Linked DNA regions of Homo sapiens: regions 1, 2 and 4 are each linked to region 3. The links come from fine-mapping of genetic effects on gene expression. A gene starts in region 3. Each other region holds a variant in brackets. All regions are shown on one strand. Distances are from middle to middle.

The links. PIP is the estimated chance that this variant, and not a neighbour inherited with it, causes the effect.
Region 1: its variant is fine-mapped to the expression of HIF1AN in whole blood (INTERVAL, PIP above 0.99). The same link has a PIP of 0.9 or more in subcutaneous fat.
Region 2: its variant is fine-mapped to the expression of HIF1AN in lung (TOPMed, PIP 0.91).
Region 4: its variant is fine-mapped to the expression of HIF1AN in tibial artery (GTEx, PIP 0.97).

Annotation. Positions count from the first base shown.
Region 1 is chr10:100,500,872-100,509,011 of GRCh38, forward strand. It overlaps SEC31B (SEC31 homolog B, COPII component), which reads right to left. Exons shown (of 26, transcript NM_015490.4): 5 at 8,136-8,140; 6 at 7,037-7,180; 7 at 6,554-6,696; 8 at 5,450-5,549; 9 at 5,169-5,330; 10 at 4,490-4,624; 11 at 1,383-1,613. Among named protein-coding and RNA genes, the nearest start is that of SEC31B, 15 kb to the right of the region's middle. RefSeq lists a silencer at 5,708-5,908. The variant T/C (reference allele first, on the strand shown) is at 3,376.
Region 2 is chr10:100,560,679-100,568,818 of GRCh38, forward strand. No RefSeq gene overlaps it. Among named protein-coding and RNA genes, the nearest start is that of HIF1AN, 29 kb to the left of the region's middle. RefSeq lists enhancers at 1,231-1,869, 1,628-1,707, 1,818-1,867, 1,870-2,507. The variant ATTTG/A (reference allele first, on the strand shown) is at 4,562.
Region 3 is chr10:100,532,809-100,540,930 of GRCh38, forward strand. It overlaps HIF1AN (hypoxia inducible factor 1 subunit alpha inhibitor), which reads left to right and starts at 3,135. Exons shown (of 8, transcript NM_017902.3): 1 at 3,135-3,327; 2 at 3,603-3,853; 3 at 7,826-7,974. The coding sequence starts at 3,151. RefSeq lists enhancers at 2,895-2,984, 3,055-3,114.
Region 4 is chr10:100,472,395-100,480,394 of GRCh38, forward strand. WNT8B (Wnt family member 8B) reads left to right here. Exons shown (of 6, transcript NM_003393.4): 2 at 6,658-6,691; 3 at 7,480-7,618. Among named protein-coding and RNA genes, the nearest start is that of WNT8B, 13 kb to the left of the region's middle. The variant G/GATTT (reference allele first, on the strand shown) is at 4,199.

The sequences.
Region 1 (8,140 bases), 32 kb before region 3:
CCAGGAACCATCATGATGGACAGCTCTTGGGTAGCTTTTAAACCAGAATGCCTGGCCAGGCGCGGTGGCTCACGCCTATAATGCCAGCACTTTGGGAGGCTGAGGTGGGTGGATCACCTGAGTTCAGGAGTTCGAGACTAGCCTGGCCAACATGGTGAAACCCTGTCTCTACTACAAAAAAAATACAAAAAATACAAAAAAAAAAAAACCCTGTCTCTAAAAAAAAATACAGGCGTGGTGGCAGGTGCCTGTAATCCCAGCTATTTAGGAGGCTGAGGCAGGAGAATTGCTTGAACCCGGGAGGCAGAAGTTGCAGTAAGCCAAGATCATGCCATTGTACTCCAGCCTGAGCGACAAGAGTGAAACTCTGTCTCAAAAAAACAAAAACAAAAAAACCCAGAATGCCCTGTCCTATAGGTCCCTCTGTCCTATAGGTACCACTGTCTCCTTTGTTTAGCGGAGTAAAGGCTGAACTCCTGACCACTCCCTCTCTTTACCATCTCACCATTCCTGGAACTTGTATCCTGCTTATGACAAAAGCATCATTTCTTATTCTTTTCTTCCCACATCATTCTCTGGCTTCACTGTATAGTCAAGATCTTTCTCAAATCCTCTTTCTCTAACTTCCTGATGTCCACCTTCATAAAGCTCTACTATGCCTAAAGCTCAAATTTCAAGTCCCTCTCAGATGCCCTGGTACAGGCCCAATCCTTTTTGCTTTCTTCTAAACAATTCCAAAAACTTGCACAATCATCCCACTGACTGACCAGTCAGCTACTTGCCTTTCTTCCTTCAGATCTCTCACTTGCTCATTTCCTTTGATAGGTATAGTACTCCTCCTGGTGTCACAGGAAACTTGAAATTAAATGAGAACTGGAACTGAACCCATGCCTCCAGTGTACAGTGGCACCTGAACCCTAGGACCCACTCCAAGGACTTGCCTTGGGTTACTTGAAACCAACTCAAAGCCTTCTTATGACAATATGTCCTTCTAACTAATGTTTTTCCTTTCTCCTCTTTTTCTCTTTCCTCCCTTTTTTCTTCCTTCCCATTACCTTATCTGCCCTTTGGCATGATACCGTGAAGGTCTTTGCCTTGGCCCTGGTAAAATACCTAGGACATCAACCATAGTAGCAACAAAAGAAAACATCTCGTGTATTCCCCATCTTTCCTAGCCTCTTCCCAAATGGCCTTTGAGCCTCTGGTAAAGGGTGAACGTTTTGTGTCTAGATGGTGGGTATAGTGTGGGGGAAAAACTAATGGGAGTTAAGGCCTCTGTGATCTGGGTCCCAGTGTGCTTGTGCTTCTCCTGCAGTTGACAGAGGTTGGAGTTCCAGGCTTTGGGGAGACACTTCTGAGCAGCTAGCCTTCAGGCTTCCCACCTTCAGGAACTGCCACAGCATCTTTTCACTTTGCAGTAAAGCTTGCTGGCTCTTGTTCTGACAGTAATTCAGTAGATTTCCTGATCCCAAGGCCTCCTGCAGCTCAGCTGATCGCATCAGGAATTCAGATTCTGTGGTGACTTGACTGATGAAGACTAGGCGGGGGCAAGGCTGTGGCACCAGATGGGCAGGGGTGCTGGGGAGGCCAAAAGTAACCAGCTTCCCTCCAAACTGGTGAGGAAAAGCAAGAAGGGTAAAGGTTATACCTTCAAGTCAAAAAGTAACACTAAGTCAGATTCACAGAGAAGGCTATCTAATGGCTGACCCTAGGCTAGGAAATAAATAAAATAAGAGAGTTCCTGGGGGGTGGAATAGGATCAGGAATTTAGTATTGAATTCGTCTCCCTACCAAAACCACTTCTGCACTCTTAGGACCACCCACTTCAAACTTCACCACACAAGACTCACCTTCTGCTAACCTGTCCTGGTACCACCATTCTCCCAGTCACCTGGGCTAAATACCTCAGCATTAGCAAAGTCTTCATACCCCCTATAGCCAAGCAACGACAAAGTCCTACCTATTCTTGTTCACTGTCTTTCATGCAGGTCCCCTCCATCCCATTCCCAGTGCCAGTACCCCCAGATTACTAAAATAGTTTGCTAGCCTTCTGTTCTTTTCCCTCCTCTAATTAAGCCTTAGACTATCCCTCTATTGCTTGTACCAACCTGCTGCTATTCAGGAGCCTGTGTGGTTTCACAAGGCCACAGGAAAGAGCTTAAGCTCCCCTTCCTGCAGTGCACAAACCTCTGCAAAATCAGGGCCAAACCTATCTTTCCCAGCATCTCTCTCCCTGCTTGTTTATTATAATTGCTCCACATCCCTAAAATGCCTGGTGTGTTCCTGCTTCTGTGCCTTTACCCACAACACCCCCACCTGGAGTATCCGTCTCACCAAATTAGATGCCTTATATAAAGCATCTGGCACAAAACAGGACCTTAGAAAAACCCTTTTTACTCCAGCAGTTCTCAACATTGGCTGCATATTAAAACCACATGGAGAACAATCCAGACTTGCCAGGCCACACCCCAGACAATACAATCAGAAACTCTGGGGATGGGACTAGGCATCAGTATTTTTTGAATTATTCAGGTTATTCCAATGTGTATCCAAGGCTGACAACTTTTTTTTTTTTTTTTGAGATGGAGTTTTGTTCTTGTTGCCCAGGCTGGAGTATAATGGCGCAATCTCGGCTCACCGTAACCTCCGCCTCCCAGGTTCACTCGATTCTCCTGCCTCAGCCTCCCAAGTAGCTGGGATTACAGGTATGCACCACCACGCCCGGCTAATTTTGTATTTTTAGTAGAGACAGGGGTTTCTCCATGTTGGTCAGGCTGGTCTCGAACTCCCCGACCTCAGGTGATCCACCTGCCTCGGCCTCCCAAAGTGCTGGGATTACAGGAGTAAGCCACCAGCGCCTGGCCGACAACTTTTTTTTTTTTTTAATTTTTACTTTAGGTTAAAAAAATTCAATCCAATGCAGTAAATGTCCATGTTTGTTATATGGTAAACTTGTGTCATGGGGGTTTGTTGTACAGATTATTTGGCGTTGATAACTATTGCTTTACTCCCTAACTATTCACCATTTCTTTTCCCAATATCCACCTCCTAATGAACTCTCCCAGTCAGAATTCTTATTTACCGTGACTTCTGCAGCACAAAATCTACACCACAGATTAGTGCTAAACAAAACCATTTTAACTTTTGATTTATATAGTACTTGATAGTTTTACAAAGTGTGTACATATATTCTTATTTGTGGTTCATGTTAATTTTCTGGGCAGGCATCACTATCCCTGTTTTACCGATAAGAACGGTTAAGTCCTGAGAGGTTAAATGAATTGTTCAAGGTTACCCAGCTAATAAATGACAGAGCTATGATAAGAATTCAGGCCTCTTGACCTCAGAATTCTTTACCTCCCTACTTCTTTTTCT[T/C]TTTAAGCTCACAGCCTATTGAATGTGTTAGTCTTGCCTCCCCAGTAAAACCGTTGGCTTTGAAAACAAGAACTTCCGCTTTTATACATCTGTTTTCAATTCAAACCTAATATTTAAAGCATTGTACCAAGTGCTTCAGGGCCTTGTCATTCAAAGTGCTAGTCCTCCGACCAGCTGCAAGGACATCAACTGGGAGCCTGCTGAAAAATCAGAATCTTGGGCCTTACTTCCAACTCAATGAACCAGTTTCTGAATTTTAATAAGATCCCCAAGTGATGTGGATGCACATTAATAGTTTGTGAAGCACCGCTTTGGGGATATAAAAATCAGCAAGACATAGTCCCTATCCTTAAGGAGTCTATTACTTAGTAGGGTAATATGCATATATGTATATAAATAACTTTAGTATAGTTAGAATGTATCGTTACCAAAGTATAAGTCTGTGGGATTATAGAGAGAGGTTAATTTTGACTTGGGTTAAAGACAGGCATCAAGGAGGAGATAGTATTTAAGAGAGGGGCCTTGAAAGGCTGTGGTAGCATTCAATGGGCCCAGGAGAGAAGCTGAAGGTTAGGGTACAAGCAGAGACAGGAAGAGTTGAGGAGTTATTTACAAAACAGAAAGAAGTCATATGTAACTGGAACATAGAGAACATATGAGAATGAGACAGAAATGGAAAGGTAAGTGGAGCCCTGTGCAAATTTAGCCTTGTCTATAAAGCAATGGGAGGCTCAAACGTTTTGAACAGAGAAATGACAGAATAAAATGGTTTTTTTTTTGCCTTCTTTGTAGTTCCTTACTACCAGTCCAGACACGTAAGGGTTAGAGAAAAGATGGAATCTCAGGCTATTTCTCCACAACCAAGAGTTCTAAGGCAGTCAGCTCCTTTTAGACAGGACTGGCAGAAGATATAGAATGGGTGAAGTGAAGAGAAGGAAGCTATAGTAACTCTCTCCTTGAGAGGTAAAGTGGGATCCATTCTGAGACAGAGGCAGTGGGAATACGTCTGCTACAAAACTTAGCTCCATGCTGGGCACATGGTAGGCTTCACAAACACACACACACACACACACACACACAAACACACACACACCTATACATCCACTACACTTACAGCAAATGAAACACCTGTTGGTCTTCTAATCCATTTGGGGGGTTTTTTCAGGGGAGGTATCAGTGGTGCTTGTGCCACTTGCTCTGGCACCTGCAGTGGTGGGAGAGGCTGGCCTTTGCTGAAGGAAGAGGAGATCTGGGGGGAAAAGACACCTGCATCGCCATCCTAAAGTGGCAGTTTAGTCAGGAACTCCACCTACAAACTCCATTTTGGGAGGAATCCTTGAGACACCCAATTTGACCTAGAAAGGTCAGACTCCCATATTCCAGGGGATGGGGAAGTGAGTGGTAGCGAGGGTGGGACTCCCATGCAAGTAGGCTCTTGGAAAGACTACTACATTCAAAGTCTACAATGGAGTGTGGCACAAAATGGATCTATAGAAGAGAGAAAGATAAGAGTCATACTCTTGAAATAACTGTCCCAGCAAAGGGGTCCCACGGTCCCTGAAATACTACAGGGCCCATCCAATAACAAGAGTCAAGGTGAAGGCCTTCTTCACATTGTGGCAGAAACTAACATCCTTTCAGGAAGATGGGCACTAGGGCAAAGGTGCAGCCCTCCCAAACCCCGGGCCCTGGTCTCCCAATCTCCAATATCTCCGCTTCTCAAGCCATATGTCTCTCTCCCACAAACAGAGACAGCCCCTTCCCTCCAGCATTCTCTACCAAGCCCTTCAAACCTTGTCAGCCTGTCTCATATGCTGGACTTCCCAGCTCCTACCCATCACAGAGTACAAACTGATCCAGCCGTTGAAGGAGGCAGCAGAGAACACTGAAGGGTCCCGAGGGCACCACTGCACATCAAAGCACCAGCTGCTCTGTGTTGGTAGCTTATATACCACCTAATATGAGGGAACACACCATTAGGGACAGTCCATGAAACCCAAAACACATGGCTGCAGCTGAGATTCTTCTACCCTCTCTCTCCCATCCCAGCATGCCCACAGAAGGGCCAGCCTACCTCACTGCTCCCCAGGTTCCGGCACAAGATCTGGCTGTCCTTAGCACTAGTGAGCAGCAGCTCAGCATCAGCCTGGCTCCATGACACTGACAAGATCCCCCTAAAAAGAGAAGGGAAGAGGAACTAGCATTTGTTGAATGCCTACTATGAGTAGGGTGCCTTATATGTCTTTTATACATTTTATAGGGCATATCAGACCATCCATGCCCTATAAAATGCATGGTCTGATATTATCTTACAAATGAATAAAATGAGGTTTTGAAAAATTAAGTAACTTTCCAACAGTTGCAGAGTCAGAACCCAAACCAAACCTCAGAGCCTGTGCACTATGCAATGTACCACTCTGCCTCTCTTAGATCACTGCAGGATGACCTGCTTCTTTTCACTGATTAGACAGTAGAGATTATGAATCAGTATGAATCACACAAACACTCATCACTATGGGTGCTTTTAGCCCAGGAGGTAGTAAAGACCTAACCATCTAAAGTCCCCAAGGAGGCCAGGCACAGTGGCTCATGCTTGTAATCCCAACACTGTGCAAGGCCGAGCGGGGAGGATCACTTGAGCCCAGGAGATCGAGGTCACAGTGAGCCTTGATCACGCTACTGCACTCCAGCCTGGGTGACAGAGCAAGAACTGGTCTAAAAAAATAAAGGTACCCAAGGAGATACAAAGGCACCATGGCCCTTTGGTTAGAAAGAAGAGATTGTGGAGGCTGGATAGAGGCCTCCACAGGATAGACAGGAGTCAAGTTGTTTTTATGAAGAAATCCTGGAGGAGGCAAGCTCATCACCTAAAGAAATGAACATTATCCTCATATCAGAGCCTGGAGGCTAAACACTGGTTCCAGTATTTCTCATTACCCCATTCCATTCCCATCTCTGGAATTTAGATGGAATCTCAGCCTCCTCTCCATAACCTCAGGGTCTAAGGGCCTCCTCTTGGTTAAGGCTGGAGTAGGTATTGGGTGACTATATGTTGACCGGAATGGCTTTAAAGCCAGGGAGGATGTTTAGTAGCTAAAGTGAGGGATACATTGCCTCCTACCCAGCCCAGTTATATCCACCATCCCCCCAAGGATATGGATGACGTCTGAGATGCTACCTGCTGTGGCTCTCCAGCACCTTCAAGGGCGAGGAGGCAAAGCGCAAGTCCCACAGCTGAATCACGGGAAGTCGATCATCCTCTGAGCACAGCACTAACTGGGTGGCTATGTCAGGATGCCAGGCCAGGCCTGAGCAGTGCATCTGTGAACAAAGCAGATCCCAATGGGTGCTGTAACCTGACTCTTTTGCCCAGTTGAAATGGGACCACTCTGAGAGCAAGTTTTCTGTCTCTTTTGTGACTGGGAACACCACAGGCATCAGAGAGTGATGGCCAGGAATAAGTAAGGAATGGCAGAAGCTTCCAGATCAGCTCTGTTTAGCTTCCCTAAGTTTTCACTCTCAATAGGAAATGTGCTAAGCGGCTGACTCCACATGTCCGACAGCTGAAAGCAGGACTCTGGCCTGGGGCAGAGCAGCTCTAACTGCTAGGCAGGAGAGAGAAGCCAGAGCCCAAGCCTGTGTTCTGGCCTCCAATACTCACCCTGTTGCTGTGATCACTGACTTTGATGATAGGTTCATTCTTCCTGAGATCCCACACAACTGCCTTGCCACTGGGGTGAGCAGAAGACAGAATGTGTTGGGCTTGCCGGTTCCAAGACAGTGCCTTGATGTCCTCTGGAGGCTGCTAAGGCAGGATGGGGACAGAAAGATGACAACTTGTCACCCCCTGGACAAAGTGACATCTGCTGTTCCACTGCTCCCAGCCACCCACAGCAAGTCCAAGAATAGACATGGGGCTACCCAAACTAAGACAGTGTTGCGAAGCTGGGAGTTGAATTTTCCAGGGAGGATCCTTTAGGGTATCAGTGTAGAAGCAGAGGGGATGGCAGGCACATCTAAGTTTTACTCCTACCCAAGGTTTTACTAAGAGGATAGAGTCAAGATTTTAAAAAACAGCCCTCTTGTCTAGGACAAAAAAAGAGGGAGAGAAGGAGGAAGATGAGGGAGGGAGGAAAACAGATACCCAAGACCCCAAGAGAGAGTGAGGCCGAGAGAAAAACCACAAGATGCTATCAAATTGAAACTTAACTTACCTCATGATACTGTAAGCACAGAAGAAAGAGAAAAGGCCAGGAAGCAAAAAGATGGGCCCAGTTACAGATTGACAGACAGCCTCTCCAAGACAGAAGACCAGACCCCCAACTGCATGGCAGAGCCACATACAGGGAGAACAAAGCTGACCCCCCCCTCCATAAAAAGGACAATGGTATGTCTGGGGTCCTACTCTTCCTCCCTCTTTGCTGGGCCCAATGCCCTACCCAACCCTGCGAAAGCTCTACTGTGATAAACAGCACTCCCATCCCTTCTTGTGGTGTCTTTTGCTCTCCCCAACTTTCATCTGCCTCCCAGAAACTCTTAGAACGAGTAATGAGCACAAACCAACTACCCCATATACACCCTCCACCCACCAGCCATCCTAACTCTTATCTGGCTGGTAGCATGTTAGTCTGTGGAGCTTTATTGCCCTCCAGTGGTAAAGTTTGATATCTCTTGAGCTCTGATTGGCTCCAGAACTCAAGACTTTTACTTAGGAGAATCAGCTGCACACTCCAGGGTTGGGTAGTGGGGGTGCTGCTCACCTGTG
Region 2 (8,140 bases), 28 kb after region 3:
GAAAGGTGAGTTTGGAAGTGTTTGGATTTTCAAAAGAAGGACAGAGGCAGAAGCCAACCACAGTTTAAGGGGGCAGCTAGTAGAGAGCTTTTTAGGCAAGGGAGGCCACTGCACATTTATAGGCAGAGAAGGTGGCAGGACAGAGAATTTAAGAGAATGAGGTCTCAGAGGAGGCATAGGATGATGGGATATGAAATAGCAAAGGCACACCCAAGGTGATCCTGAAGCTCAGAAATATTAAGTCATGCAGGAGGGGGCACCATTGGAAATATAATCCCCTAAAGTTATGAGTAAACAAATGATGGTGGGGTGTGGAGGGTAGAAAGAAGGCCTAAGCTTGATGTGGGGGCCACAGCCTGGGCAAGAGAAATTTCCAGCAAAGCCTCTGACAAATTTCTGACAAAGCCTCTCATGTTATCTAGTTGTGGCAGAAGCATCTGAACCAAATGGCTAGGAAGCTTGGTGAACAGTCAGACCCAGTGAGGGTTGATTAATGGATCCATGTCAGCCTAGACTAGAGGGAAGTCTCCAGCAGTATGCCTTAGGGCTCAGTCTGGGCCTGTGTCCTCTCTGACATTTTTATTGACAACTGACCGAAGCAGCAGGCTCATCAAGTTTGCAGGTGATAGAGCTAGGAGGGGCAGTTAATACTTTGCATGAAAGAGTCAGGATTCAAAACGATTTCAACAGGCTGGAACACTGGGCTGGAACCAACAAGATTAAACTTAACAGGGATAAATGTAGAGTCCTGCACTTAGGTTAAAACAAAATCAATGACATAAGTACCGGTTGTAGGGGTTGGCCCAGCTTGACAGCAGTTCATGAAGAAAAGACCTGGGGGGTTTAGTTGACTGCAAGCTCAATATGAGTCAACTGTGTGATGTGACTGCTAAAATCCTAACACAGCCATGAATTGCATTAACCAAACGGAGCAGCCAGATCAAGGGAGGTGTTACCCCACTGCTTTCTGAGATGGTCAGGCCACCTCTGAGCACTGGGTCCAATTCTGAGGTCTTTTCCCCTGCTAAGGTCAGTGACAAATGAGAATATTTTTGATAGGAAGCCACCATGGCAGTGGGCCTGAATACTGTCCGAGACTTGCCAGTGATTCTATGGTGCTGAAATTTCTGGAATGAAGGACAGGAGTCTAGAATCTGAACCCAGGCAAAGACTTTTATCTGGAGCATATTTCTAGGATTTAGGGGAAAATTTGGGGTCTGCATTTCCTCACTTCCTATGGCTGCCCAGAGGCATTGGCCTGTGACTCTCATCCCTGGCCTTCCTGAGGTCAGGGGATTAGCGATTAGTTAGACGGGGTCTAGGGTAGAGGTCAGCCTGAGGGGGCGGCTATAAAACGAGTCATTGAGGTGGGAGGGAACCTGGAAATTGGGACCTCACGCACCATATTTCCCGCGCTCTCCCCTGGGACGTGCCGTCCCTGCTGCAGTCGCAGCGTGGCGCCCTCGCTCCACGCAGGGATCCTGAGCCAATGGCGGAAGCGGAGTGCGCGGCGAGGTCGCAGTTGCGTTTCTCGCACTCCCCACTGCGGGGAGCCCGTGGGCCCCGCACTGCAGGGAAGCTGCCGGCCCAGGTCTCCTGGGTGGCAAGAAGACGCCTGTGGTGTGGAAGAACCTCGCCCGCAGCCCAGCACGTGTAGAATCCAGATGTGGCTTCTGCTGGAGCCACGTGTTCCGGCCTGAGCGACGTCGCACGTGGCCTCCTGGCCGCAGAGCCCATGGCGCGGGGGGCCACTCTTCTGACGCAAGGGTCTGTGGGGCCGCGCAAGAGCCTGGGGCCCCCGACCTTCCGCCGACTGGCCGTGGGCTGGCCGCAGCCCAGCTCGGCTCTGTCTCGAGTTCCTTCGCTGTTCAAAGCAGAGTGGCGGCCACGTTCGGGGGCACTGGGGCGAGGGGTCGGGCGTCGGACGGGGCCCTGGGTCTGTACCGTTTCGGGCTCGCCGGAGGGGCTGCAGGCAGGGCGGGTTTCGGGTTCCACCGCCAGAATAATTCGGCAGTTCTGGATGGGGCCCAGGAATTTGTATTTGTGACCAGTTTCCCAGGTGAGTCTGAGGTCCGTGGTCCTCTGACCTCGTTTAGGGATGAGATCTAGTCCTCAGAGCCCGGGGCGGGGCTGCCGAGGACACCGGCTTGCTCTTCAGGCAGCTCTGGCCCGGGTGGCGGGAGGAGGCGGCCGGGGCTGGGATCCGGGCGCACCCTGGAAGCTCCAGATGGGCGTTGGAGACCTAGGGCGAGATGAACCGAGGACCGTCCATGTGTGTGGGTGCCGCTCAGGAGCGGGGAGGTGGGGGTGTGGGTGGACGGGCGTGTTGAGGGTGATGGATTGCTGCAGGGAGTGGACTCAGCCTACTGGGAGGAGTGGGAGAGGGGAAAGAACTGGAGGAACGGCGGAGTCCGTTGGCCTTTTCTTGGAGAGCTGGAGATGGAGGTTGGTTCTGTCCTGATGGGGGCAGGAGGACGGGTAATGGAGGCTGCCATGCTCAGTGAAGCCCCATGGGGGCAGCCATGCTTTGTGGTTTGTGGTGAGGCACTGAGCCCCAGGATACTGACTATTCCCTTTTTTGGAGAAAGAGGGGAAGAGGATGCTCCTTAAGAGCTTCTAGGGGAACGTTTCTGCCTCCAGGGGGTTTAGGTGAACTGTGTGTGTGTGTGTGTGTGTGTGTGTGTGTGTGTGTGTGTGTGTGTGTGTAGGTTAGCATATTGGAGATTTTCAAGGGAGTTCGTCTCCAGGACACTTCCCTCACCCCTACATCCACACACAGTATCTTATGATCCTCTTGGTTTCTCTTGGGCCTCAACTCCCCAAAAGGGGGGCACTCTTGTCAGCAGCTCACAAACATGTGGATATCTGCTAACTGAAGACACTCTGAAGACTTTCCCAGAGGAACGTTATAGAAGGAACCCTCAAATTCCAAATCCTTGAATATTGGAGCTGGAAGAGAACTTACAAACCATCTGATGCTGTCTTCCCCAGCTTGGTCTTGGAGAGTAGACACCTTAAGTGAAGGCCGAGCTTCGTAAGCCTCTGAGGATCCCAGTACCTGGTGTGGAGACAGGACTTGTGCATTGCCTAGAGAAGGGAGAGACACAGCAGAGTCAAGCGGTGGGTGGTGAGCTTTGATGGTGAACACCTGGGAGCTCAGAGGTGGGTAGGAGCCTATAAAAGAAGGCCCCTTGAAGGAGGGAAGCTAGAGCTGCATCTTTAAATGGGGAAAATTTATCTTTTGTGTTTTTCCCCCTGATTATGAATTTATGAAAATGAAGAAAAAATATATTGGGGCCGGGTGTGGTGGCTCACACCTGTAATCCCAGCACTTTGGGAAGCCAAGGCAGGCAGATCACTTGTGGCCAGGAGTTTGAGACCAGCCTGGCCAGCATGGTGAAACCCTGTCTCTACTGAAAATACAAAAATTAGCTAGGTGTGGTGATGCATGCCTGTAATCCCAGCTACTTGGGAGGCTGGGGCACGAGAATTGCTTGAACCCAGGAGGTGGAGGTTGCAGTGAGCCAAGATTGCGCCACTGCACTCCAGCCTGGGCAACAGAGCAAGACTCTGTCTCCAAAATATGTATATATGGATGGAACACTGTGACATGTTGGTCTTCAGGGGAGCAAAGCTACAGAGGCCTGAATTTCCTGAGGTTTGGAGGGCAGTGAAGAGATGAAGAGGACAGCTCTGACCATTGTTGGAGCACAGTGAGCTCGTAGGGCAGAGGGGTCTGGCTGCAACAGAAAGTATCTGGCAACAACAGGAGGTATGAGGCTGGAACCCAGGGGAAAGAAACAGGGTTGGGCTCAGCTTCATAGAGGTAGTGAGGATTAGGCAGATGAGAACACCCAAGGAGAAAAGGAGAGAAAAGAGGGTTTGGGCGGGGGGTGGGTAGGTGTGAACATGCCTGAGAGTCATTTCCCAGGTAAATAGGAGTGGAACTGAGGGTGGAGTTCAGTGAGAGGGAGGGAGGAAGAACGACACAGGAGGGGTGGGAACCAGGGTCACCTCTGAAGAGGGGTTTGAGTGCAGGAGACAGGAGTGAGGCCCTAGTGAAGGTCATTAGATTTGGGGATGAAGAGGTCAGCAGAATGGTAGGGGTTAGAGGGTGAGTTGGTGGAGAGGAAATGGGGGCATAGCAAGTATAAACTGCTATAGGTTATCCGTTGAGAAGTACACAGAGGACTGGAGACAGGTTGGGGTTTTGAAAAGGAAACTGCAGCAACGCTTTTTTAGCCAGGGGAAGAGGAGCAAATCTGTAGACAGAGGACATAGGAGAAGGGGCCACTGGAGAGGGGGAGATGGAAGCTACCAGAGAGAGCAGACACTTGAAGGAGCTGAGTTCCAGAGGGAAGGGGGGACAGGGCCTGCAGGAGGTTGAAGCCTCAGAGAAATGGGGAGAAGGAGGGGAAGTCATGGGGTTCAACCTGGACCCAGGTTTTGATCTCCTAAAAGTAAGAGTAAAGGTTGAGGTTGGCTTCTTCAGGTAAGGGTGGCCAGGGTGAGGCTGGGCTGGACGGACACAGAGGGAGGGGTGGAAATGCTGTTGTGAAGA[ATTTG/A]TTTGGGAGTCAAAGGAGCAATCTAGGCGTGTGATGTACTGCCTGGTAGGGCGGAGGTGCAGTGCAGCTGGGCTGGGATTTGCCTTGGGTGAAGCTGATGCTGCATCTTGGGGCAGGATGGAGTAAGCAAGCCATGGTCTGACCTGATTACAAATGATAGGCTCAGTGCCAGGCTGAGGGGCCTAGGGGCCAGGACACGATGAGGACAGTGAGGGGCCTCCCTGGGGAAGGGAGGGACAACTGCCAGAGCCTGGCCCAGGAGGGCCCGATAGACGAGTATGGGCAGCCATGCAGTGTGTGGGGTCAAGAGCCTGGACCCTGGACTCAAGAGCCTGAGTTCAAATGTGAGGCATTGTCATTGTCATGATTTTTAAGTATCTGAGGTAGGCTATGAGTGGAGGGAAGGACAGGAGGAGGTACAGAAAGGGAGTGCTTGCTTCATGCCAAGGAGTGTTCTATATTCACGAGTCCTTTCTAAACCACCGCGAACTAGGTACTGTTTTATCATTTTACAAATTAGGAAATTGAGGTTCAGAGAAGGGAAGTAACTTGGCCAAGGTCACACAGCCAGTTGGTGACAGTTGGTTTTCGAAAGGCTTTTTTTCTGTTGCTTTGATAACAGTCCCTTCTGAGAAGTGGCTCCAAAGTCTGACTTTCTGCTATGCCTTTTCATCAGCTACTTACTAGGTAGGTGACCTTGGGCAAGTTACTTAATTTCTCCCTCAATTTTCTCATCTGAAAAACAGGAATAATAGTAACACTATCTCATAGGGTTGTAATGATAATGAATGAATATATGTAGAAGATTTGAAAAAAAAAACAGTGTCTAGTACATAGAAAGTGCTGCTTAAGAGGGTGCTGCCATTGCCAGCATCCTCCTCCTCCTCCTCCTTCTCCTCCTCATCATCATCACTCCTTACAGCCTCCAGCCAGAAGCTAAGGACTTACAGGCAGGTGAAAGAAAGTCCTGAGGCATATTAGTCATTTAGAGAAGGTCCCATGGGGAAAGGCAAGAGAGTAGCATCCAACCAGTGGTTCTCAACAAGGGACATTTTTGCTGTAACAGTGTCCTGGAGGAACTACTGACTTTTTTTGTGGGGGTAGGGAGAGGGAGTAATGGGGTGGGGCAGCAGGGAATTACTGACTTTTGGTGGCAGGAGCCAGGAGTGTTAAAAGTGGCCATTCATACCCAGTTGAGAGTGTGGAGAAGTTCAGCTGGAAAGGGTGCTTGGGATTTAACTCCTCAGAAGAGTTGCAGCTCCAGCTATTGGAGCAGCTGGAAAAGGTATGGAAATGAGCTTGGAGGTCTGTGAGGGGCTGGAAAGAATCAGACTTAGGAGGGGGCAAGGCTTCCTGGAGGGGAGGGTGGGGGTGAGGCAGGCTGAGGGATCTGGACAGTAAGCAGGGGCAATGGAGAGCCATGGGGTTCTGGATGAGGGACATGATGTATTTGGGGAGATCACTCATGCAGCCAGGGAAGAGGTTGGGTTAGAGAGGGATAAAAAGGGGGCCCATTTGGGGATTGGGAACAACCCCTAAGGCGGTAAAGACACCTGGGCTGGTCTGGGGTTTGGGGTTGGAGCATGCAGATAAAAGACCACACTGAGGCACATTTGAAGGAAAACTCCGTGTGAAGATGAAGGAGTGGTGAGTGGGCTGGGCTGGCCCTAGCAGGTGCATGACCTGGGAAGGAATTCTGGGAGAGATGGGCTGGTCGGGGACTCAAGGTGATCACAGTGAATTTCAGGTGATGCTGGGGAGTCTGGGAGCTGTCTAGTGAGGGGCTAGTGATGCCAGTTGGAAGTTAGGACTGAAGTACCAATTTGGGAGTCATTTTTCCACATCTATTGACACTCAATACACATATAAAATAGGGCCCCTTGGAGGGTCATTCCTATGGGGTTGCTAGTTGAATTTGAAGTCTTGCTTGCAGACGAATTTGTCATAGGAAAAAGCGGAGGGGTAAAGCACTGGAAACCTGCATCCTAAGCCTGGCTGGGCCCCTTCTGCATAGCGAGGGAGTGAGGAGAGAGCTGCTGGGAGAGTCAGCGAGAGGTTGGAGAACTAGGAGAGGGCATTGCCAGCGCTGCCGGCTGCAGGGAACAGGCCTAGGAGCTGGCAGAGTAGCAGGGTGGAAGCCAGGAACAGTGGAGCTGCTGAGGGTGAAGATGACTCAGGGGCGGGAGGAATTTGGGAGTTCAAGGAGAGTGGACCGAGCCGTGGTTCAGGAGGCAAGTTGAAGAGGGTGTGTACATGAGAACGGGGCGGTGGTGGGGTGCGGAAACACTGAGGCCTGCAGAGGGGAAGGGAGCAGGAGAAGAGCGTTTCCCTGAACTAGGGTTCACAGGGAACCACCCCCAACCTCAGCCAACCTCAGGTCCAAAGTAGTGGATTTCTCCAGGCTCTATTCTCTGACTTCCACCTCCCCGCAACACACACACTTGACCCCCAATTTGAGGCTATTTCCTCTGCCCTGGCCTCAAGGAACATGGAGAAAAATAGCCTGTGTCCTCACTCATCTGGCTCCAGGGGATTCCCTGCCTCCTCTGCCCTCAGCATTCCCTTCCCTAGGAGAAAGCTCTGCTCCCGTAAGGTGACCTGACTTTAGAGTTTTTCCTATTTGCCATCCTCAGTGCATATGGGCTTTCAAACAGTGTGTGGGCCACCCTGCATCTCCCACTTCCCCCAGTCATCATCTGCCACTGCTATTCAGGCCCAACTAGGCTTTTCTTGGCTGTTGCTTTGATCACAGTCCCTTCTGAGAAGTGGCGCCCCGACTCCCTCCCCCACCAGCTCCCTGGTCTCTTTGAGTCTGTCACCGGAGTTAGGAATCTGCATGGGATGTTGAAAACTCCTCTCCTCTAGGAATCCTCCTCCAATTGGGCTCATTCAATTCTTATTGCTCCTTTCCTCGGTTGAGTCTGCAGATATGGAGTCCACTTAGATAACTTTGCAGATAAAAAGCAGCTCGTGCTCTGCTATCTGACTGGGAACCATTTTTGCCTCTATTGCATTGTAATATTCTGTAAGGGAACTAGAGCTCACCTAGTCCAGGAGTTTCCAAGGATATTTTTAACCTTAGAACCTTCAATTCTGAATGTACACACACACACACACACACACACACACACACACACACACACATACACACAGAGAGAGAGAGAGAGAGAGAGAGAGAGAAAAGCAGAAATACGTTGGCTGAAATTTACCCTTGCTCTAACCTTTACCCATAGCAGCCCTAGACACCCCTGAGAACCCTTAGAGCTCCATGGAGCACATTCTGAAAGCCCAATTTCTTCACTTACAGATGAGAAAGGCCCAGAGAAGTGAAGGGACTCTCCCAAGGTCACACAGCAGGAGCAAAAACTCAGGATTCCCCCAATTCCCAATTCTAGCATTCTAGGACTTATTAACATCCAGCCAAGCTCTCCCTCTAGTGTTTTTTAAAAATGTAATTTGTGTTTTTCATTCATTCACACAGCAGATATTTACTGAGCACCTACTATGTGCCCAGTACACAGTCTGCCCTTAAGACTATTAGGTACAAGTCCTAGGAGTCAATGGGAAGCAAAAAC
Region 3 (8,122 bases):
CCCGCCACCATGCCCGGCTAATTTTTTTGTATTTTTAGTAGCGACAGGGTTTTACCGTTTTAGCCAGGATGGTCTCGGTCTCCTGACCTCGTGATTCACCCGCCGTGGCCTCCCAAAGTGCTGGGATTCCAGACATGAGCCACTGCACCCAGACCAGTGTTAATTTTTTAAAAAATGTTTGGTAGGATTCATCAGTAAATCTATCTGGTCTTGAGCTTTTCTTTTTCTTTTTCTTTTTTTTTTTTCCTGAGATGGAATCTTGCTCTGTTGCCCAGGCTGGAGTCAGTGGCACGATCTCAGCTCACTGCAACCTCCGCCTCCGGGATTCAAGCGATTCTCCTGCCTCAGCCTCCCAAGTAGCTGGGACTACAGGCGTGCACCACCATGCCTGGCTAATTTTTGTATTTTTGATAGCGATGGGGGTTTTACCATGTTGGCCAGGCTAGTCTCGAACTCCTGACCTCAGGTGGTCCCCCCGACCTCGGCCTCCCAAAGTTCTGAGATTACAGGCATGAGCCACTGTGCCCAGCCTTTTCTTTTCTTTTGAGACAAGGCCTAGCTCTGTCTCAAAAGGCTGGAGTGCAGTGGTGCAATCTCAGTTGACTGCAACCTCCACATTCCGGGCTCAAGTGATCCTCCCACTTCAGCTTCCCGAATAGCTGGAACTACAGGCGTGCCACCATGCCTGCTAATTTTTTTTTTTTTTTTTTTTTGGCTGGGGGGATTTGGTAGAGATGGGGTTTCTCCATGTTGCCCAGTCTGGTCGCGACCTTCTGGGCTCAAGTGATTCGCTTGCCTCTGCCTCCCAAAGTGTAGGGATTACAGATGTAAGCCACCATGCCCAGTTTCTGGGCTTTTCTTTATGGGATGTTTTTGATTCCTAATTCAATCTCTTGTTACAGGTCTATTCAGATTTTCCATTTCTTCTTGAATCAGCTATTATAGCTTGTGCCTTTCTAGGAATCTGTCCATTTCATCTAGGTTCTGTAATTTTTTGACATACAATTGTTTACAGTATGTCCTTATATGCTTTTTTTGGGGGGTAAAGTCAGCAGTAATATCCCTGTTTCATTACTGATTTTAGTTCTTTTAATCTTCTTGATCTTAATTAATTTATTTATTTTTAGTAAGACAGGATCTTGCTCTGTCATCCAGGCTGGAGTGCAGTGGCATGATCATGGCTCATTGCAGCCTGCACCTCCCAGGCTCAAACAATCCTCCTACCTCAGCCTCCCTAGTAGCTGGGACTACAGGCATGCATCAACGCACCGAGCTAATTTTTAAAATTTTTTGTAGAGATGAGGTCTTGCTATGTTGCCCAGGCTGATCTGGAACACCCAGGCTCAAGTAATCCTCCTGCCTCAGCCTTGAAAAGTCCTGGGATTACAGGCATGTGCCACCATGCCTGGCCTAATTTATTTTTAATTCCCAAGGTTATGAATTAATACATTCTTGTAAAAATTCAAACATTCAGCCTGAGCAACATGGCAAAACCCTTTCTCTACAGAAGGAAAAAAAATTAGTCCGGCATGGTGGTGTGTGCCTTTAGTCCCAGCTACTTGGGAGGCTATGGTAGGAGGATTGCTTGAGCTGGGGAGGTGGAGGTTGCAGTGAACCAAGATTGCATCACTGCACTCCAGCCTGGGTGACAGAGTGAGACCCTAGCTCAAAAAAAAAAAAAAAATTCAAACACTGCAGATAAAATGAAAGCCTTGATTGCCCCCTGCAGCCTCAAACACTTCCACAGAGGTAGCCCTATTATCGGTTTGGTGTAGCATGGTTACTATGTAGCATAATTACATAGTTAAGCCAGTGCATTCATTTCTATTACTGCATAACAAATTACTGTAAATTTAGCAGCCCAAAACACCAATTTATTTTCTCACATATTCCATGAGTCCAGGTACTGGTTGGCTGAGTCCTCAGCTCAGGGTCTTATCAGGCTGAAATCAAGGTGTTGGCTGGGTTAGCGATCTCATCTGAGGCTCCGTGTGTGTCCTTTCCCAAGTTCAGTGGTTGTTGCCAGAATTCAGTTACTTGCATTTGTAGGATTAAGGTGCCCACTTTCTTGTTGGCTGTCACCCAGGAGCCTTTCTCAGCTCCTAGAGTCCACCTGCCATTTCCTGCCATATGGCAGTTTGCTCCTTCAAGGTGAACAGGACAGCTGTGCTGTGGCTTCAAATCTCTTAGATTCTGTCTCTGACCTCTAGCCCTGATTTAAAGGGCTAGAGTGATAAGATGAAGCCCACCAGGATAAATCACCTCTTTTTGACTGCCTTAAAGTTAATTGATTAGGGACTTTAATTACATCCTTGTCATATAAGCTAACCTAATTACAGGAGTGATGCTCTATCATATTCACAGTCGTGTTTTCTTTTAAGGGGAGAAATGTATACAGGATGTGTACACCGTAGGGTACAAATCTTGGGATACATCTTAGAATTGGGCCTCTCACAGCCAGCCATAAGAACTGTCCAAGTAAGCAATAGAGGTATTAATATGGCCTTTTATAATCAGTATAGATTGTTTGAAAATGTGAGATGTCCATGGTTGGCCTCTAATAACATTCGATTCACGGCAAACATATATTCAAGTAGGAGACATGGTGATATAGGCAGAAAAATCAAATGATGCTAAACAAAAGAAAACTGTCTTTGATTTTGAAAGAATTCAACTTGCTGTATATCTTTTGCCTAAGCCTTCAGTCAGCCTTTGCTCTACATCTACCAATGTGATCACTGCTTTTCCTTCTGACTTCTTTAGGTGGGTCAAGAGTTTGCTTTTCTCCCCATTCATGAGTGTAAAGTTTAATGCCTAACTGAACTTGCTTCCTTCTTTGACTCTTGTGTAGACTCGGGCACATGGGGCAACTTTTTTTGTGTTTTGCTCTACCAGGTCGTCCCTATTCCGTGGGACTAGTGTCTAGCCCCATTTCTTCAGCAGTGGAGCCTAGGATGTAGAGCTGCATACTACCATTAGGAGGCGCACCCTCAGGCCTCGGCTCCGCGTTCTTTATGTCTCTGGACCGCTCTCTCTCGCAGCTCATCTCTATGGTTTCCGTTGGGTGTGTGGTTTTTTTGTTTTTTTTTTTTTGGGGTCCGGAATAGGCGGAGCTTCCGGTTCCGGTGGGGGCCGTCCCTGGCGGCGGAGATGGCGGCGACAGCGGCGGAGGCTGTGGCCTCTGGCTCTGGAGAGCCCCGGGAGGAGGCTGGAGCCCTCGGCCCCGCCTGGGATGAATCCCAGTTGCGCAGTTATAGCTTCCCGACTAGGCCCATTCCGCGTCTGAGTCAGAGCGACCCCCGGGCAGAGGAGCTTATTGAGAATGAGGTGGGGGGCGGGGCCGCGTCTAAAGGGAGAGGAGGAAGGTACCCGGTTGAGAGGTCAGAGGTGAATGGTGAAAGAGATGGGAGACTGGCAGGGCTCTAGACTAGGGCCTATGGGAAGATGGAGAGAAAGGCGAGGAGATACGGAACTTAGGGGTTCGTGCTGATTAACAGGAGAAATTATTCTGAAGTTGAGAAGTAGTTGGGATCATGGAGGCCAACCCACCGGCTCCTTGGCATTACTTCATTTGGTGTTTTTCACCTGTTGTTTTCATTTAGGAGCCTGTGGTGCTGACCGACACAAATCTTGTGTATCCTGCCCTGAAATGGGACCTTGAATACCTGCAAGAGAATATTGGCAATGGAGACTTCTCTGTGTACAGTGCCAGCACCCACAAGTTCTTGTACTATGATGAGAAGAAGATGGCCAATTTCCAGAACTTTAAGCCGAGGTCCAACAGGGAAGAAATGAAATTTCATGAGTTCGTTGAGAAACTGCAGGATATACAGCAGCGAGGAGGGGAAGAGAGGTAAATTCCGAAAGCTTAATTTTCTGTTGGATTTAGGACACTCATTTTTCTTTCCTATACTTGTTTGAAGGTGTGGCAGAATTGGGTCAATTAGAGATTGGCCTCTCCCATCTCTGGATTCCAGTTGAAGGAGTAGTCTGGTCTTCCAGCCTTTAAGGGGTTTGAGTTCTTAGTGGTTCTTGGTGCTACAGCCAGCTAGTTCTGTAGCTTGAGGGATGAGGGAATGATTAAACTTGAGCTATGAATCTCTGGGTTCCCATCTTCTTCCTCATAAAGAGTTAGTTGCCTAGAAGGGTCAGGCAGGTGAATGGAAGGAGTAATATCGTCTGTGTGAAATCAGTGATGAGGCTGAAGGCATAAGCCTTGTTCAAAGTGAGAAGCCAAGGCCGGCGGGGGTGGCTCATGCCTGTAATCCCAGCACTTTGGGAGGCCGAGGTGGGAGGATTGCTTGAGTCCAGGAGTTCAAGACCAGCCTGGGAAACGTGGTGAGAGCTAGTCTCTGCAAAATTAAAAACTAAAACAAAAAACCATGGTGAGAGGTCATTACTTGACTCTGCTTGCTTCAGTTTTGGAGTGCAGTTCTAGGGTTGGGAGATATTCCGATTTTCAAGAGAAGTTCAAAATCAGGATTTTTATTTAAAATCTTTTGACTTTAAATGGAGCAACTAAATCAGATTTAAAGAAAAAAAGTTGCAGGGGGCCAAACAAAAATGTTTGTCACTGGATTTAGCTCTGAAAATGCCTGTTTGTAGCCATTGTCCTTAAGTATTGTGATGACTGAGGATAGTTCAACCTGAAAAGTTGTATAGTTTGTTGTGATTCTGCAGTAAAGAAGGTTAGGATTCTCTAGCTTAGGGAAGATCAGATTAAATTTGTTTTTCCTATCACAACAGCAACACAAGACACACAAGACAGTGATTCTTCCTCTCTGCTTTTATTCCTGCTTATGAGGACAGCCTCTTATGTAGGTCCGAGACAGTATTCAGTCCCACACTATAACACTGCCTCTGGGGAATTGCTTTCGCTCAGTACTTCACGGTGAATTACCCTCTCGCATTTGGTGTCCAACCCTGGGTTTCTCTCTAGTCTCTTGCTTCACTCACTCCTGTTCCTGACTCCTTATCAGCAGTCTGTGGCTAAGTGAATGGATTTGAAATATCTTTTTTTCTTCTTCTTAACACTTAGCAGTTGTCATAATGATGGGATTTTTGACCAGAAGAGTTTCCAAGATATGAACTGTGGTCGATCTGTCCATGATGTCTTAATATATTGGTTCAGTTATCTCATGCATTAATTTTCTAAAATTTAACACAGTGTGTGTGTGCACACTTCCATATACACACACCCAACATTGAGAGAAAGATTGATTTAAATGATGCTGTTGGAGTGTGTAATTCCATTGAATGAACATATACCCAAGAATAAGCATAAGATATGTGAATCTTGTGGTTCTTCAGTCGCTTGAAGTTTCTTGTGTCCCATAGTGAGAGCATTTTGCATAAGAATGAGTGTAATCTGTACTTTATGGGTGATTAAAGAGTTTTCAAGGAAAATCTTTAATTGTTTGGAAGTTTTACCCTATCAGCTGACTTTAGCACCGAGCAGCTTCACCAGTCAGCTTCACTTCAACCTGATTGGACAGGTTGTGGCGACTATGGGGTGAAATGTATTAGGATCCTCTGAGCTATTTTGAGCATTAACCATTCTGGTGTAATCATAATATTGTTTAGATTCATATATGGGCAGTATCACTGACTCTTTCAAAGTTACTTGCATATTTTTTGGGTGAATATATAATTATTATCTTTGGGGAGCGTTGCATTGAGTCTTGAGGATTTCATGTTCCTACAAAGGTAGTGTTTCCAACTCATCAAGATTTCCTATTAAGGCTGGGCATGGTAGCTCACACCTGTAATCTCAGCACTTCGGGAGGCAGATCACCTGAGGTCAGGAGTTCGAGACCAGCGTGGCTAACGTGGTGAAACCCCGTCTCTACTAAAAATACAAAAATTAGCTGGGCATGGTGGCACGTGCCTGTAGTCTCAGCTACTTGGGAGACTGAGGCAGGAGAATTGCTTGAACTCAGGAGGCAGAGGTTGCAGTGAGCCAAGATTGCGCCACTGCACTCCAGCCTGGGTGACAGTGAGACTCCGTCTCAAAAAAAAAAAAAAAAAAGATTTCTGATTAACATTGCCTTAAACATTGTGATTCTAGGCAGTGAGATGAGATGCCTTTGAACCTTTCTTTTTTTTTTTTTTTTTTGAGACAGGGTCTTGCTCTGTCACCCAGGCTGGAGTGCAGTGGCATGATCTCAGCTTACTGCAACCTTCACCTCCCAGGCTCAAGCGATCCTCCCACGTCAGCCTGTCAAGTAGCAGGGACCACAGGCATGTGCTGCCACCACCATGCCCAGCTAATTTTGTGTATTTTTAATAACCAATTTATTTATTTAAATACATAAGGTTTTGCCATGTTGCCCAGGCTGGTCTCGAACTCCTGAGCTTAGGCAATCCACCTCCCTTGGCCTCTCCAAGTGCTGGGATTACAGGCGTGAGACACCGCACCTGGCCTCTTTGAGCCTTTTGAAATAATGATCTCAGGACCAGGACAGAGATGCTTCTGTCTTTTTTTTAGGTTTGCACACTTATTAAATGTCTCTTGTGGGCTTGTTCAAGTGTGTCTGGGTTTTCATATCTCTTAAGTAACTTATGACCTTCCTCAGGTATGTTAGGAGCCTGAGGCCTTTACCTAATAAGCTATCTTCCTTACTTTAGCTGTAGAAGGCTGCAACAGGATAGGTGGCTGAATCAGTTAAGATAAACTAGGCTTCAAGCCAGAGCTCGGGCTAGAAACAACAGAGGCTTATTTCTCACTTACTACATGTTGATCATGGGTAATGTCATATTGTTCTTTACATCATCTTACTTGCTCTGGCACCCAGATTGCCCCAGCAGCTACTATCTAGAACTTTGGAGTTGCTGTGGCAGAAGGAAAGAGATGTGGTAGTGGTAACTTGTTCTTAAATTACAGTTGGAAACAACACAAGTCGCTTCTGTGGACATTTCCTTGGCCAGAGCAGCGTAAATAAGCAAGCCTGGCTTCAAGGGGATGTGAAAGAAAACTCGCACACTGAGGGAACCAGCTCTTGGTGAACAGTAATACAATTTACCACAGTGGTCATCAAGGGCCAACGGAGATGTCTCAGGCTCTGCGAGTCTCTGGAGTGAGACTGATTCATCATTCTAGGGTCTGTGGATAGGCTTCTAGGAGTCTGAAATTGTGTGAAAGTTCTGGGTGTATGTGCATTTTTATGGGGAACCTCCGTGGATTCTTTTATTTATTTATTTATGTATTTATATTTTTTGAGATGGTGTCTTGCTCTTGTCACCCAGGCTGGAGTGCAATGGCACGATCTCAGCTCACTGCAACCTCTGCCTCCCAGGTTCAAGTGATTCTCCTGCCTCAGCCTCCTGAGTAGCTGGGACTTCTTCTCCAGGTTCTTTTTTTTTTTTTTAATTTTATTTTTCATCTCACCCTCCTACTCTTTGGATTCTTAAAGGAGTCATTCTGTGACCCAAAAAAGGTTAAGCATCACTTCTTTAAAGAAAAAGTTTGGGGGCCAGATGCAGTGTCTCACACCTGTAATCCCAGCACTTTGGGAGGCAGAAGCAGGAGGATTGCTTGAGCCCAAGAGTTTAAGACCAACCTGGACAACATATTGAGACCTTGTTTCTTTAAACAAAACAAAGAAAAACCAGTAAATTAAAAAATTTGGTGTTGAACATAACTCAATGAAGGATAAGTAAGAATTCAGTTGTATGAGAATCCATGTTGGCTAAAATTTGCCTGACTACATCTGTTCTCTGTGGGAGATGCTGGTATGGATTTGGGCTTGGATTTTCAGATGTGGAGAGGCCATGCCAGGGGCTGTGTGTGCATGCACTAATAGGATTTTCTTCTTGGGGAACATAGGTTGTATCTGCAGCAAACGCTCAATGACACTGTGGGCAGGAAGATTGTCATGGACTTCTTAGGTTTTAACTGGAACTGGATTAATAAGCAACAGGGAAAGCGTGGCTGGGGGCAGCTTACCTCTAACCTGCTGCTCATTGGCATGGAAGGTAAGAAATCTTTCAAAAGCAGCATGGCTTGGAGTCATATGAACCTGATTTCTAATCCTGTCTTCACCGCTTATTAGCTCCATGACTTTGAACAAGCCACTTCACTTTCTTAAGCCTCAGCCTACTCAGCTCTAAAAGAAACATAATA
Region 4 (8,000 bases), 60 kb before region 3:
GCCGGAAGATTTCTTGAGTCTGGACAACAGAGCAAGTCCCTCTCTCTAAATAAATAAATAAAAGTACTTCGTGTGCACAGAATAAACACTCAGTGAAAAGTATAGTACCCACCCCATGGAGTTGCTACGGAAATTTAAAAAGATGATACAGGTAAAGCACTTAGAAGAGTTCCTCACATACTTGAATAAATGCTAGTTATTATTACATGATATGATTAAACTTTATATCAGTGTATACACACACACACGTATACTGGACAGCTAACACAAGAAGAAGAAACAATTGTAAAATTTTGACTTGGCAGTGTAAAAGCACAACTAACCACAGTTATTTATGTAAATCGCTTACCACTTATGCCTAATTACTATGAAGCACAATAACAATTATGCACAGCACTAAGTGTGTCAGATTAACTTTGCTAAAGGTTTGATTATAGCACTAACCTCTGTGTACATATGCTCAGTGTTCACTCTGTTACTCTTGTAGTTGATCATCTCCTAATGTGGCACAGTCATCTGCTCACTACACTAAAAAATTAGTGGGAGCACTGGCTTGCCACAGGCTTCCTATATTTCTCAAAATCTTTTTGCAGTTCTTTTTCTCCTTACATTTTCTGCTGCATCTGATGGTCTATCTTTTTTATTTCAAAATCCTTGTATTCAATTCACTTTTATAGGCACTTACTATGTTCAAAGTACTAGATTAGGAACTGGAGGGTATACAGAGATAATTAAGGCAGCCCATACTTAAGTATAAAAGAGGAAAGGGAAACCTTCATATGAAACAGAGAAAAGTTGCTGTGAGGCTTCAAGGTGTGCTGGTTGTGGCTTCTGCACTGGTACTTATTCAAGAATAAGTGAGATTTTTAAATAATAGCTTTATTGAAATATAATCTACATACTATAAAAGGCACCCTTTAACAAATCAATGATTTTTTTTAGCCAATTCATGGATTTGTGCAACCTTCACCACAATCCATTTTAGAACATTTTAATCACTTCAAAAAGAAACCCTTTATTTATTAGCATTCACTCCCCGTTCCTCCTCCCCTCAGTCCCTGGAAACTGTGAATCTAGTCAGTTTCCATGAGATTGCCTATGCTGGACATTTGATATAGATAGAATCATATCATTTATGGCCTTTTGTGTCTGGCTTCTTTCACTCAGGATGATATTTTCAAGGGTCATCCATGTTGTAGCTTGTATCCAGTACTTCATTCCTTTATATGGTCAAAAAATATTCTATTATGGGTTGGACATGGTGGCTCATGCCTGTAATCTTGCACTTTGGGAGGCTGAGGCAGGCGGATTGCTTGAGGTCAGGAGTTTGAGACCAGCCTGGCCAACGTGGCCAAACCCCATCTCTACTAAAAATACAAACATTAGCTGGACATGGTAGTGCATGCCTGTAATCGCAGCTTCTTGGGAGGCTGAGGCACAAGAATTGCTTGAACCCAGGAGGTGGAGGTTGTAATGAGCCAAGATGGCGCCACTGCACTCTAGCCTGTGCAACAGAGCAAGATTCTGTCTTAAAAAACAAAAAAAAAGGTGACTCTTCATGATTTTTGTCTGAGCAACTAGGAGGAACAGTCCTTTACTTAGATGGAGAAGACTACAGAAGGGGTAGGCTTGGGTGATGGCAGCGAGGATCAGGAGTTCAGTTTTGGACACGTTAAGTTTGAGATGCGTATTAAACACTGAAGGAGAGATGCCAAGAATACAGTTGGATATGCAAGTCTAGAGTTCAAGCAAATGTCTGAGAAGAGCTGGGAGGGTTCAGGAAGTCATGAACCCTTTGAATGGTCCTGAATCTGGGTAATATTGTCAGCAACTGTACAACCTCATGGGAAATGGGAAGCTTGTACCTCCATCTGGGAGTATACTGTTTTACCATGTTCTGTCTATATAGCAGCCTCCATTTGTTAAACAAAATTTATATCTTAAATTTACATCTTCAGTGTTTGTTAGCATCTTTCCTTCAATCACATAACTGCCACATAGAGGTGGCACCCATACAAACACTTAAATTCCTTCCTTTTTGGTTCTCTTTGCATCTTCTCACAATACTCACTATGTTTTCTGCAATCTATATTTTACCCCCAAAAGGAAATCATGTCATTGTTTCATTGACCAAGAACAAGATCCTCCTCCTTTGGTACTCACTACAGGACAGTCTTCTTTTTTTTTTGAGACAGAGTCTCGCTCTGTCGCCCAGGCTGGAGTGCAGTGGCACGATCTTGGCTCACTGTAAACTCCACCTCCAGGGTTCAAGTGATTCTCCTGCCTCAGCCTCCTGAGTAGCTGGGATTACAGGGGTGCATCACCACGCCCAGCTAATTTTTGTATTTTTAGTAGAGACGGGGTTTCACCATTTTGGTCAGGCTGGTCTCAAACTCCTGACCTCAAGATCTGCCTGCCTTGGCCTCCCAAAGTGCTGGGATTACAGGCGTGAGCCACTGCACCCAGCTGAGTCTTTTCTTAATATAGGATATTTTGGATATGAACAAGCTAGCCATAAGGTTCAAATATGTCTGCAAATAACTCGGAGGTTAACAACACAAGTTGGCTGGGCGTGGTGGCTCACGCCTGTAATCCCAGCACTTTGGGATGTCAAGGTGGGCGGATCACCTGAGATTGGGAGTTCGAGACCAGCCTGGCCAACATGGTGAAACCCCATCTCTACAAAAATTACAAAATTAGCTGGGTGTGGTGGCACACGCCTGTAATCCCAGCTACTCAGGAGGCTGAGACAGGAGAATTGCTTGAACTCGGGAGGCGGAGGCTGCAGTGAGCCGAGATCATGCCACTGCACTCCAATCTGGGCAAGACAGAGCAAGACTCCGTCTCAAAAAACAAACAAACAGAAAAACACAAGTCCCGGGAGGTGGAGTCTGCAGTGAGCCGACATCACACCACTGTACTCAAGCCTGAGCAAGATACAGTGAGACTCTGTCTCCAAAAACAAAACAAAACAAACAACAAAAAAAACAAAAACACAAGTCACTTTATAGGAATGTTGTCCAAATAAGGCCTATAGTGTTGTTCCATGACAGGTGCTCAATTAAGTCTCATTCATTGATCAGTTGGGCTTGACCTGGATATCATACAAATCTTTGCATATTGTAGGATCTTCCAGGAAAGAATTCTCTAGAATCTCTGTCTATTACTCCCTGTAGTTCCGGCTTAGACTCCTTTCACAGGAAGACTCTTCACCCCAGCTATGGCAAAGCATTTTCTTTGTCACTCAATTTGCTTTGTTGTTTTGTTTTCTTTCCTGATAATTTCTGTCTTATGGAAAATGGGAACTAGCTCTGTCAGGCTTGGTAATGTCCAAAATCTTTGAATGTTATTCCTAACATAAAAAGTGCCTTTCTGAGTGGGAACAAGCTCAGGCCCCTTTCCCCAAAGCAAAGGGGCCTGGCTGACTCCTCTGACATGTCTTTAAGGATCAGAAATTCATGTCCAAACCTATAATGGCTTTGGAAATTGTGAATTCATTTAAGTCATTCTGAATTGTATTTTTGTGTTTTGCTGGTGCTACTACACCTGATCAAGCAGTGCTTCTTTTCAGTTGAATTAAGGTTGCCTACCAAGCTTTAAAAAGTAGGCCTTGGTGGCTGGGCGCGGTGGCTCACGCCTGTAATCCCAGCACTTTGGGAGGCCGAGGAGGGCAGATCACGAGGTCAGGAGATCGAGACCATCCTGGCAAACACAGTGAAACCCCATCTCTACTAAAAATACAAAAAAAAAAAAATCAAAAAAAAATTAGCTGGGCATGGTGGCAGGTGCCTGTAGTCCCAGCTACTCGGGAGGCTGAGGCAGGAGAATGGTGTGAACCTGGGAGGCAGAGGTTGCAGTAAGCCGAGATGGCACCACTCTAGCTTGGGTGACAGAGTGAGACTCCGTCTAAAAAAAAAAATAGGCCTTAGTTTTGATAGACTTCATAGTATTTTTGATTTTCTAAAATTCTATTACAACTCGTTTAGAATCTTTTTCATCTCATATGGCAGCCTCTTAGTTTGTTAATACTGGTTTTCAAAAACTACTCACATTTTTGGTGTTGTATGTGTTTTTTATGAAGAAAGTCAGCCAAGCTCTTTTGGCCTGACAAGAAACTTTCTTGGTCTATTTCATTTCCAATCCCCTTTCTGGTGATGTTCAGCATCTTATTGGCCTTCAGAATTGCAGGGGTACACCA[G/GATTT]CATGGAACAATACATAATGATTCCCGTATTACTTTCTCACATTATAATGGAAAAACAAAGATAATAGATAATAGATTCTGATTTTCAAATGCCTATACTGAAGTCATTCTCCAAGTCTTTAGCCCTGCAGATCATGTGTATATGTACATATATATTTAACTTTTTATTTTTAGATAATTATGGAGTTGCAAGACATGTACAGGGAAGAAACGTACAGGGAAGTCCCATGTACACTTGCCCCAACCTCCCCCAGTGTGAACATCTTACAACGTTAGTACGATATCCATGAAGCTTATTCAGACTTCACCATTTTTACATGCACTTGTGTGTACATGTACTCATGTATGTGGCTTTATGCAATTTTGTCATGTGTAGCCTTGTATAACCACAGTAAAGACATTTGGCCATTCCCCCAAGACTTTCTCATGTTACTCTTTACAGCCACATCCATCCCCCATCCCAAATCCTTGGCAACCACTGATCTGTCCTCCAGCTCTATAATTATATAATTTTTATTATTTCACTATTGTTATGTAAATAGAATCATGCAGTATGTATCCTTCTGAGACTGACTTTAATCACTCCGTAACTTCCTTGAGGTTCATCCAAGTTGTTGCATGTATCAACGTATCATTCCTTTTTATTGCTGAGTAATATTCCATGGTATGAATGTACCACAGTTTTTTATTTTTTATTCATTTATTTATTTATTTTATTTTATTTTTGAGTTGGAGTCTCGGTCTGTTACCCAGGCTGGAGTGCAGTGGCGCGATCTTGGCTCACTGCAAGCTCCATTCCCAGGTTCACGCCATTCTCCTGCCTTAGCCTCCTGAGTAGCTGGAACTACAAGTGCCCACCACCACGCCTGGCTAATTTTTTGTATTTTTAGTAGAGACAGGGTTTCACCATGTTAGCCAGGATGGTCTCGATCTCCTGACCTCATGATCTGCCTGCCTTGGCCTCCCAAAGTGCTAGGATTACAGGCGTGAGCCACCGCACCCGGCCACAGTTTTTTAAACTACCCTTTGAAGGACATTGGGTAGTTTCCAATTTTTGACTATTATTAATAAAGTGGCTATGAGCATCCAGGTACAAATTTCTGAGTGAAAGTAAGTCTTTATTTCTCTGGGATAAATGCCCAAGAGTGCAATTGCTAAGTCATATGACAAGTTCATTTTTAGTTTTTTTTTGTTTTTTTTTTGGGACAGAATATCACTCTGTTGCTCAGGCTGGAGTGCAGTGGTGCAATCTCAGCTCATTGCAGCCTCTGCCTCCCAGGTTCAAGCGATTCTTGTGCCTCAGCCACCTGAGTAGCTGGCATTACAGGCGCATACCACCATGCCTAGCTATTTTTTTTTTTTTTTTTTAGTAGAGACGGGGTTTTGCCATGATGATGCCTAGGCTGGTCTTGAACTCCTGGATTCAGGTGATCCACCTGCCTCAGCCTCCCAAAGTGCTGGGATTATGGGCGTGAGCCACTGTGCCCAGCCCATTTTTAGTTTTAAAAGGGGCAGCCAAACCATTTTTCCAAATCGCATTACTTATTTTTAGAGTTTTATTATGACTCAATCCCTAGAGAGATATTCCACTGTTTGTTTACCTCTTCCTAATTAGAGAAGTATCCTTCTAACGTCCCACGGAGTCAGATGAATGTGGATTCAAATCCTGCTTCACTCACTTATTAGCTGGGTGAGCCTGAACACACGTTTAACTTTTCTGGAGTCTCAGATTTCCTGTCTGCAAAATAGAGATAATAATGCCTGAGACAGTAAGGATTTAACAAGATCAACATGTAAAATACCGAGAGTAGAGCATAAGGAACATAGTCAGGAGTTAATGCTAGTTCTCTCCCCCACTTCATGGCAGAATAATCAGCAACCATCACTATCAGGTATATGGTACTGGAAATTTTACCTGGCTTTAACAATGCAAGGAAATGATACTACTTTTATTCATGTTTTTTCTACTAAGTTTTATGTGTGTGTGTGTTTTTTTTTTTTTGTTTTGAAACAGAATTTTGCTCTGCCGCCCAGGCTGGAGTGCAGTGGCGCAATCTCGGCTCACTGCAACCTCCACCTCCCAGGTTCAAGTGATTCTCATGCCTCAGCCTCCTGAGTAGCTGGGACTACAGGCGCCTGCCACCATGCCCCGCTAATTTTTGTATTTTTAGCAGAGACGGGGTTTCACTATGTTTGGCCATGCTGGTCTCAAACTCCCGACCTCAAGTGATCCACCTGCTTCAGCCTCCCAAAGTGCTGGGAATACAGGCATGAGCCACCCCACCTGGCTGTAAATCATCTTTAGTAGGTTTGTTATGCACAGTGTTTCCTGGGTAAAACTAGTTTCCCTTTCTTCCTATTAATGACATGTGCTGAAGTAATTCTTACCACTCTTGGAAGCAGAAACAAGTTGGTGTCTCTGCATTATATTCTGTTTTTGTTTTTTTTTTCCCTTATAGGTCGGTGAACAATTTCCTGATGACTGGTCCAAAGGTAAGAACAAATTCCATTAATTGATATGGATTTCACTAATCTTAGCCTGTTGACTAAAGATGATAAATGCAGATTTTTCATTATATCCACATATTTTATTATGCTGTATACATTACAGATAGAAAGATTGAGACCCAGAGGGTGTTAGGGACACATCTAAAACCACATAGCAAACCACTGTCAGCGCCAAGATAAGAACGCAGGAGCACTGAATTTATGGCTAGAATTTCCAGAGCCATAAAAGTCAACAGCCTTTTATAGGTGTCAGGCTGCAAAGTCACACATCCTTCTCAGTGCCCCGTGGTGGGATGCAGTTTCCCATGTTTAAAATGCTGGAATTGTACTACATGATCTTTACATTCATGGGCATTTTCAGTTCCAAAATGTTGTTTTCTAAGATGGTCATGTGATGAGAACTCCTTAAATTTCATGAATTAGGTGATTTGGGCTCATTTTGGAGAGACAGGATAGTATAGTGAAGAAAGGTGAATAAAGGATAATAGGGACTAGAGTCTGATAAAACTGAGTTTCATTTCTAGTTCTGCCATTTGCTAGCTCTGGGACTTTGGGGAAATTACTTTAGCTCACTCCCTGGGCCTCAGTTTCCTAATCTATAATATAGTGCCTATTTCACAAGTTATTTGTGATGTCAAATGAGACAGCATATTTAAAGGCTTACTCCATTATTTTGGAGGGATGGGAGAGTGAGCAGGAAGAGGGCTGTTTGGTCAGTTTAGGGTAAATGCCTCCTAAGTTCAGTCTGAATTTTTACCCCTATGTCCCTACAGGCTTACCTGATTTACTCCAGCAGTGTGGCAGCTGGTGCCCAGAGTGGTATTGAAGAATGCAAGTATCAGTTTGCCTGGGACCGCTGGAACTGCCCTGAGAGAGCCCTGCAGCTGTCCAGCCATGGTGGGCTTCGCAGTGGTAAGAAAAACCTCAGCCACAGCTCCCTGGACCCTCTGGTCACAGGTTAGAGCCCCAGGGATAGCCCCTTGCCTCCTCGACACCCTTATTCCTCACCTGCTCTCTTCTCTTAGGTCATCTCCCTCTCCAGGATCTTCTCTTTTCCTTTTCTACTTCCTTTTTCCCACCTGTAGAGTTTTTTCTTTCTTTCTCAACACTCTCATTGCTCAACAAATGGATCTTGCCTTACTCCCAATCCCATACCATCCTTGGCCTCCCAGCTGGCTAAAGGTCTCCTCACAATGTAAGTAATATCAGGAGGTAGGCAGGGGTCATAATTCCTCAGACCTCTTAGCCCCTTCCTCAGCAGAGAGATACTGGGCAAGTGGAGAGTGACTTGGAG